Linked DNA regions of Homo sapiens. The protein of the gene in region 1 interacts with the protein of each later gene in a pairwise test. Each region holds a gene or a part of one and is shown on either strand. Other genes may lie near its edges.

Evidence for each region.
Region 2: the proteins of MCM8 (region 1) and MCMBP interact in binary tests that used the Homo sapiens proteins (3 or more experiments, as listed by UniProt).

Annotation. Positions count from the first base shown.
Region 1 is NC_000020.11:5,981,650-5,985,399, reverse strand, and holds part of MCM8 (DNA helicase MCM8), read right to left. Parts: intron 2,431-3,750; coding exon 2,235-2,430; intron 620-2,234; coding exon 400-619; intron 1-399. UniProt on the Homo sapiens protein: Component of the MCM8-MCM9 complex, a complex involved in the repair of double-stranded DNA breaks (DBSs) and DNA interstrand cross-links (ICLs) by homologous recombination (HR).
Region 2 is NC_000010.11:119,871,296-119,875,045, forward strand, and holds the start of MCMBP (mini-chromosome maintenance complex-binding protein), read right to left. Parts: upstream 1,549-3,750; 5' UTR 1,290-1,548; coding exon 1,232-1,289; intron 1-1,231. UniProt on the Homo sapiens protein: Associated component of the MCM complex that acts as a regulator of DNA replication.

The sequences.
Region 1 (3,750 bases):
AGATCTCAGCTCACTGCAACCTCCGCCTCCCAGGTTCAAGCAATTCTCCTGCCTCAGCCTCCCAAGTAGCTGGGATTACAGACACGCACCACCATGCCCAGCTAATTTTTGTATTTTTAGTAGAGATGGGGTTTCATCATGTTGGCCAGGATGGTCTCGATCTCTTGACCTCATGATCCACCTGCCTCGGCCTCCCAAAGTGCTGGGATTACCGGCATAAGCCACCACGCCAGGCCGACTTGGATTATTTCAGATGAAGTTTACGTAAACTCTAGTATGGAAATATTAAAAAGTTCTGGTAAAAAAAAAGTTTGTATCCTACTGCTCTACAATAAGCCACACACTGAACTTTGACATTCAAACAGAACCAAACTGAATAAGGAGAAGAAACATTTATACCTTTAGTCTTTCTGATAATGGCTTCTCAGAAACTACTTCAAGTACGGAAGTATTTGAATCTTGACTATTCATACGAGCTACTGTGGCACTGCTAATGGTTCTCTGCTTTCCAGCTCTTATTGCAATCACATGTTCAGAGAGTAAGTGATCATGATGCTCATTTGGAGTATCTAACAGGATAAAGACCAAATCAAATCTGGATAGTAGTGCACTCCCCATTCTATGAAGGATGAAAGAAAGAAGAAACAATGATTGGAATCAAAAGGAAAAACTAGAAAACTGTCTACTCACTTATTTACTACTCAAGTTCCACGCAGAACTTGAAAAACCAAGATTTAGGTTAAAGAAATAAGCAAATAGCTTCTTGGATTCGATATATCCAACCACTGCAACATGGGCACAAGAATTACATGTATCTACCCTGGGTAGGTTGAGGACATGGCTCTTTCTCACACCCCCAAACCCACTGAATTCTTCATGTCCTATTATCACTAATTGGCAATACTGCTACATGACATATCAGAGGTTAGCTAGTTCAGTATTTTGTTCATGATACCATTAAAAAACAGAATCCAAGTCTGCTGGATTTTTGTTCAATAGATCTTTCTGATTTTTCTAATATAGCACTTTGTCATTTTACTAAAGAAAAACTACTAGTAGGTTGATTTTTTTGGTGGTGGTGGTAAATACCCTAAATCTCCAAGTACACATTGTGTATTTCACTATGTATCAAAGACTGTTTCTATATTGATACATTATTAAACAACAAGAAATTAACTCCACCCCCACTAGGCTTAAGGCTCTAATTTTTCAGGAGGTACTCTTTTGTCTTTTTCTCACTTTTGTATCACTTAAATATATTTTTCCTTTTCCACACATTTTGTCCAAGCTGTACAGAATGAATTAGAAGAGAAAGCATACATACAGATATAAACATTGTTTTTGAAAAAAGCAGGATCATACCACATATTTAAGTTTGTTAATGTGCTCTTCTCACTTAATAGTACAGCACAGACATGTTCCCCCATTAGTACATATAAAGCCACTTTCGTTCTCATAATCACTACAGTCTTATTATAGTTTTAAGGTGTTTCCAATGTTTGGCAGCAATAATGCTGCAATACCCATGCTATAAACCTATCGTTGTGCACTTGTATGACTATTTCTGTGAACAGTAGTCCTAAAAGTAGAGTGGCTATAACAAACAGAATGTGCATTTAGAATTGTGATCAACACACCAAGGGGTCCCACAAAATAATAAATTGTGTATGTGAGAAACAATTTCTTTTTCTTTTTTTTTTGACATGGCGTCTCACTCTGTCACCCAGGCTGGAGTGTGGTGGCACAATCTCGGCTCACTGCAACCTCCACCTCCCAGGTTCAAGCAATTCTCCTGCCTCAGCCTCCCAAGTAGCTGAGATTACAGGCGGCTGCCATCATGCCTGGCTAATTTTTGTATTTTTACTAAAGACGGGGTTTTGCCATGTTGGCCAGGCTGTTCTCAAACTCCTGACTTCAGGTGATCCACCTGCCTCAGCCTCCCAAAGTGCTGGGATTACAGGCATAAGCCACCCGCCCAGCCACTGAGAAACCATTTCCACACTACTTTGCCAAAAATGATTAATATTTAAAATGTTTGCCAATCTGGTGGATCTCATTCGTACTTCATTGTTTTACTCTGCAGTGTTTAAGCACATTTTTGTGCATTTATTGGACATTTATAACTTCTGTGAAATATCCATGTTTTTCCCCTGTAGTTCTGTGAACTATTTCTTTTTCTTATTGAATTAAAGTGATTCAATACATTAAAGGTATAAATATTTGAAGAGACTTACTTTAAATTCTCAGAAACTGTTTTGGCTTTATTGTAATGTCCTCCAACTGGATTTGCAGCAGCAATAATGGAAGTTCTTGCAGGAAGGCTACAAACCACACCAGCCTTAGCAAGACTAATACTTTGCTGCTCCATGGCTTCCAACAAGGCTTGATGTTGATTCCCCATCTTATCAAATTCATCGATTCCACAAATACCTACAATCGAAGTAGAATAAAGCAGAAAAAACATTTTTTCTTTGGTCAAGTTCCAAATTTTATAGGATAGAAATTGTTTCACAATAATTATTTCCATTTGTTTCAGCAGTTAAAATTATAAAATGTCATACAATGGAGAATTACTGTTTGTTCTGCAGCAAGTTAATACATTTGTCTTATTTAACTAAGTTTTGTGTAATAGTTCTTCCTTTAGCATTTTTCATACGCACAGCACTATGTTGTGAGGATTACAAAAACGAAGAGGAGGTAAGAGTAATTCTCAAAATGCTTAAGGAGTTAAATTCAAATGGGTGTGATGTTACATACACACACAAACACACATGCACAATTTAATAAGTATACCTCAATACACATATAGTAAGTTTATTATGTTTAATAAGTATATTTCAAAACCTATACCAGGTATTGACTATACACTTGTATGCACTTATAGGGAAATCACTTAATCTCTTTAAACATAATACAATGCACCACCACTAACTAAAGGCACTGTATGTACCAGGAATGTCATGTCTATTGCATAAGTTATTGGAGATTCTCTAACATTACCTCGTAATGCTTGTCTTCCTTTCTCCCCATACCAGTTAGGTTAGTATCTGGGGGTCACATCTGAAGGGCTTTGCTGTGGTTAAACCCCTCCGTATCTACTCTATACCTAAGTAAGCCTTACTAGCACAGAGGAGTATATGGAAAATAACTGCTGATTAGTCTTTTTGATCCCCAGCTGCTAACCTAACTGGTATGGGGAGCAGGGAAGACAAATATTGTAAACTAATGTTAGAGAGTCCCCAATAACTTGTGCAATAGACATGACATTCCTGGCACATACAGTGCCTTTAGTTTATTTCAACAGATTTTCTTCTATCCTTGAATCCATTTCTGGTTTCATGTTTGGGTTTTCTACTTCATGGAACCAATTATGTTGAATTTCCTTTGTTCTCTATCTCTGTTACTTCCCCTCTAATTGTATTAAGCTTTGTTCTTTTGCATTCACTGCAATTATCTCAAGCCTTTCCTCTTTATAATTTCTCATTCAGCAGTGTCAATTTTATATATTAGTTTAATAACATTGTTAGTCATCAATTTGTCTCTCATAGCCTTATCTTTTTGTTTTGAGCTATTTCATTAATGTTCTTATCAAACATGAAACACTCATGGGAAATTTTCATTTGTTCCTTAGATTATAATTTTGTCTACAGTGAGGTCTTTTACTGGGCATATTAAATGTCTTTCTTTCTTCCTACGTTATTTCTTCACAGCTGCTATGCTGTCTCTTTGCCTTGCTCATGTATAATAACG
Region 2 (3,750 bases), on another chromosome or scaffold:
GAAATATATGCCCCTTCCTCAAAGCACCCTTGACTGCTATATAGTGAATTTTTTTTTTTTTCAAGTATGAAGGTAGTTTTAAATTTCTTCATCAGGCTGTCAGTGTTCACTGGCTAAGTTCGGACGTCTATCCAGGCTTTTTTCTAATATAATGCCATTAGTTACAGCCTGGGAAGCCAGGTAACTAAACTAATTAGAATTACAGGTAAATTAATAAGGACTTCCTGAGTAAGCACTAGAGGCCCTCCTATAAGAAATACCATACATTGTTTGCCGTCGATTTTGGCTGCTGAGGATGATTTAGCTTCCCACTGCCTTTTCTCTCTAGTACCCCAAGATGTTTTTTTCAATGAGCTAAGGCCGCTCTACAACTCTAAGTTAACTCCAGACAAGTCAGGTGTTGCCATCTACAGTGATTTCTAGCTGGATCTGACTCCGCCACTCATTACGTGTAAAAAGACACTGGGGAATGGAACGGTTGTCAAAATGCCCAGTTAACGACAACAAATATAAACTTTTCTTCGTATACCCTTCGCAGTAAAGTAGCAACAGCAATCGCAACCAAAATTTACTAAGCTCGCCTGCAGGATTCTCAGCCCTGTGTACAAACTCAAGTAGCTCAATATTTCTTGCTGGCTCTGGCACAGGAGCAGATCCAGACTAGATGGGTTCTAAAGTCATCCCAACAGGAAAACTAAGCTATGAACATTAAATCTTATCTCTGAAAGAGAGAATGAGGGTAGCACAGGAGTTAGAACCAACTTCTGTGCAAGCGAGCACTCCCCGACGCACCGGAAGTTTTGAAATATCCTGTGGGCTTCCCACAGGCAAAGTGGTTTTCCCTCCCCGCGGCTCTGCGGGCCCTCCCCAGGGTTCGAGGACCTCCGAGTTTGCTGCGCCCGGGGCCGGGGCCCTGGCCCTGCCACAGGCTGGGAGCGAGGCCGTCAATCACAGCCCGCGAATCACAGCCCGCGCCCCACGACTTCACCTTGGCGGCTCCCAAGCTGCGACTCGGGCAGGTGGGAGGTACCTGCGGCCCGGCTCCTGCCCCTGCCTGCTGCGACCGGGGGAGAGGCTGTCCCAGCTGGGGCCGGTGCAGGCCCCGGGGCCCCGTCTCGGGCCACGCGAGCCCTCGAGATGGTACCGCGTGGGGGCCGCGCGGCGGGGCCCTGCCCCGGGGCCCGGCAAACTCGGCTGCCCGCCCGGCCCGCCCCCCGGCGCCGCCACTCACCGAAGAATCCCTGCACGATTCCCAGCGGGTGGCTGAGCCAATCCTCCCCACACGGCATCTCGCCAGGGGCCGGGGCCGGCGAAGACCGGGCGGAGGCGATCCGCGGGCCGAGCGCGGCCGGGCGGCCGGCGCCCAGCTCCTCTTCAGCGGCTCGGCCGCTCCTCGCCCGCGTTCGCTCGCGCCCTCCCACGCACAGCGAGCCGCGGGGCGCGGGCCTCCCGCGCCTCAGGGAGCGGCGGCTGCGGTGGGGCCGCCGAGGAGCTGCTGGCGACAGTCAGGCGGGCGCGTACGGGCCCCTAGCCTTCACTTCGCACAATGGCGGGAAATAGCCGCCGCCGACCGCGCTGCCTGCGACCTGGGTGGAGCTCGCGTGGGGAGGGGCGGCGGGAGCGCGCGGCGCAGCGCGGCTCTGCGCGGCGAGGAGGAGGGGCGGCGGCGGCGCCGCCATCTTGGAGACGGGCAAAAGGAAGGGCACGCAGCGCCGCTGGAGGCTGCGCAGCGCGGGGCCCGGCGACGCGCTCCAAGGGCGGCGCGTTGTCGTTTGTACCCCTGGGCCGGCGTGTAGCGGGAACTCCCATAGTGGGCTTATAAGAGGGCAAAGCGAGTCTGCACAACAGCTGAAAAGCATTAAGCTCAGAGACCTCAGAGTCATCTCTGGGCAAAATTAGTGGGCGAAACCGCCTTGGGAATCCGCCCACCTCCTCTTCGTGCCTTTTTTTTCTTTTTTTGCTGATGGCAGCACTTTTATTTGGGTCCCCGGCCCGAAACCCTGAGTGGTGACTTTTCCCTCAGCTGCACAAGGTCTCCCTGAGGAAGGTGCACATTTAGAGAAGGGGAACCTCGGAGGACCCCACGCTCCTTCTGCAGTCGCGTCAGGCCCTGTGGCTCAGGGACGGTTCCTTACCGAGGGGCGGGCGCTCTAAACGCTCCGGGCCCGGCCTGCGCCCTGGTTGCGAACACCGGGTCGGCGTCTGTCTGGAAGCTGGCAGCCGCCGTCGGGGAGCGGTGCGAGGCTCCTGCACTGCGCGCCGCTAGGATACCCTGGAGAAGGAAGCTACGAAGACCGACTACAGCAGCCTTTTGCTGAGGCAATTTGGAAAATACCCAAGTTCAAGAGTGAAACTGTGGGAGTCGCTCTGAACCTCTTCTGGTTCAGGAGGCTGTCCGATAAAAAAGAAAAAAAGAATGAAACTGTGTCTCCCCTGGGCCTGAAATGTACCTAAGAAAACCCCAGGCCCATCAGATATATCTACTCAATGAAAAAAGGGCATGGTGACGGAAGGGGAATGACCTGAATGGAATCTACAAAGTGAGGAGCTGAAGGAAAAAAACGGAACCCGTGTCTCAAACCCTCCTTGGGGCTGTAGGAAGGGGGGAAAATCTTTCTACCTTTCTAGGTTCTCCACTGCGGCCCTTATCACAAAGCTCGGATTGGCAAAAGAAAAATTTAGTAACATGTACATCTTATATGGGCAAAACTCAAGGAAGAGTAACTCAAACAGGTGGCTTAGAATGGGGGAATTACGTAGCATTTACAATAAAGAACAATAACTGGGGAGAAATGGCGAAAGCAGTTTGAAGTTTCCAAAAACAGCAGAGTGGGAAGGCAGAGATACGAGAAACTAATGGTAGTTACAGGTAGTGAGTAAAGTGTGTTATGTAGGTTCTTCTAGCGCCATCGCTGGCTGATAAGGGTCTAAAGTTGTCTCTGGTGACTAACTTTTGTCCCTGGTAGAAAGAGGAGGTGGGACACCTTTGAAAATGTATGTCCTGCTCTTAGGTACATAGTGGAAGGGTAGGGAGCTTGTTTTGTACAGATGCTCCTCTACTTACTCTACTTAGGATGGAGTTACATCCCAATAAACCCATTGTAAATTGAAAATATCATTAGTTGAGGCCCAGCGTGGAGCCTCACTCCTGTAATCCCAATACTCTGGGAGGCCAAGGCGGGCGGATCATGAGGTCAAGAAATGGAGACCATCCTGGCCAACATGGTGAATCCCCATCTCTACTAAAAATACAAAAATTAGCTGGGCCTGGTGGCGCACGCCTGTAGTCCCAGCTACTCTGGAGGCTGAGGCAGGAGAATCACTTGAACCCGGGAGGCGGAGGTTGCAGTGAGCCAAGATCATGCCACTGCACTCCGGCCTGGTGACAGAGCGAGACTCCGTCTCAAAAAAATAAAATGTCATTAGTTGAAAATGTGTTTAATACACGGAACCTATCAAACATCAGTAGGCTACTGCAAACATGCTCAGAACACTTACATTAGCCTACGGTTGGGCAAAAGCATCTAACACAAAGCCCGTTTTATAATAAAATGTTGAATATCTCATGCAATTTATTGAATACTGTACTGAAATTTAAAAACAGAATGGCTGTGTGGGTAATTGAAGTATGGTTTCTACTGAATGGGTGTTGCTTTCACACCATCATAAAGTCAAAAAATCTTGTCAAACCACCGTTAAGTTGGGGACTGTCTGGATCTACTTTTCAGTTACCAAGATAATAATATTATA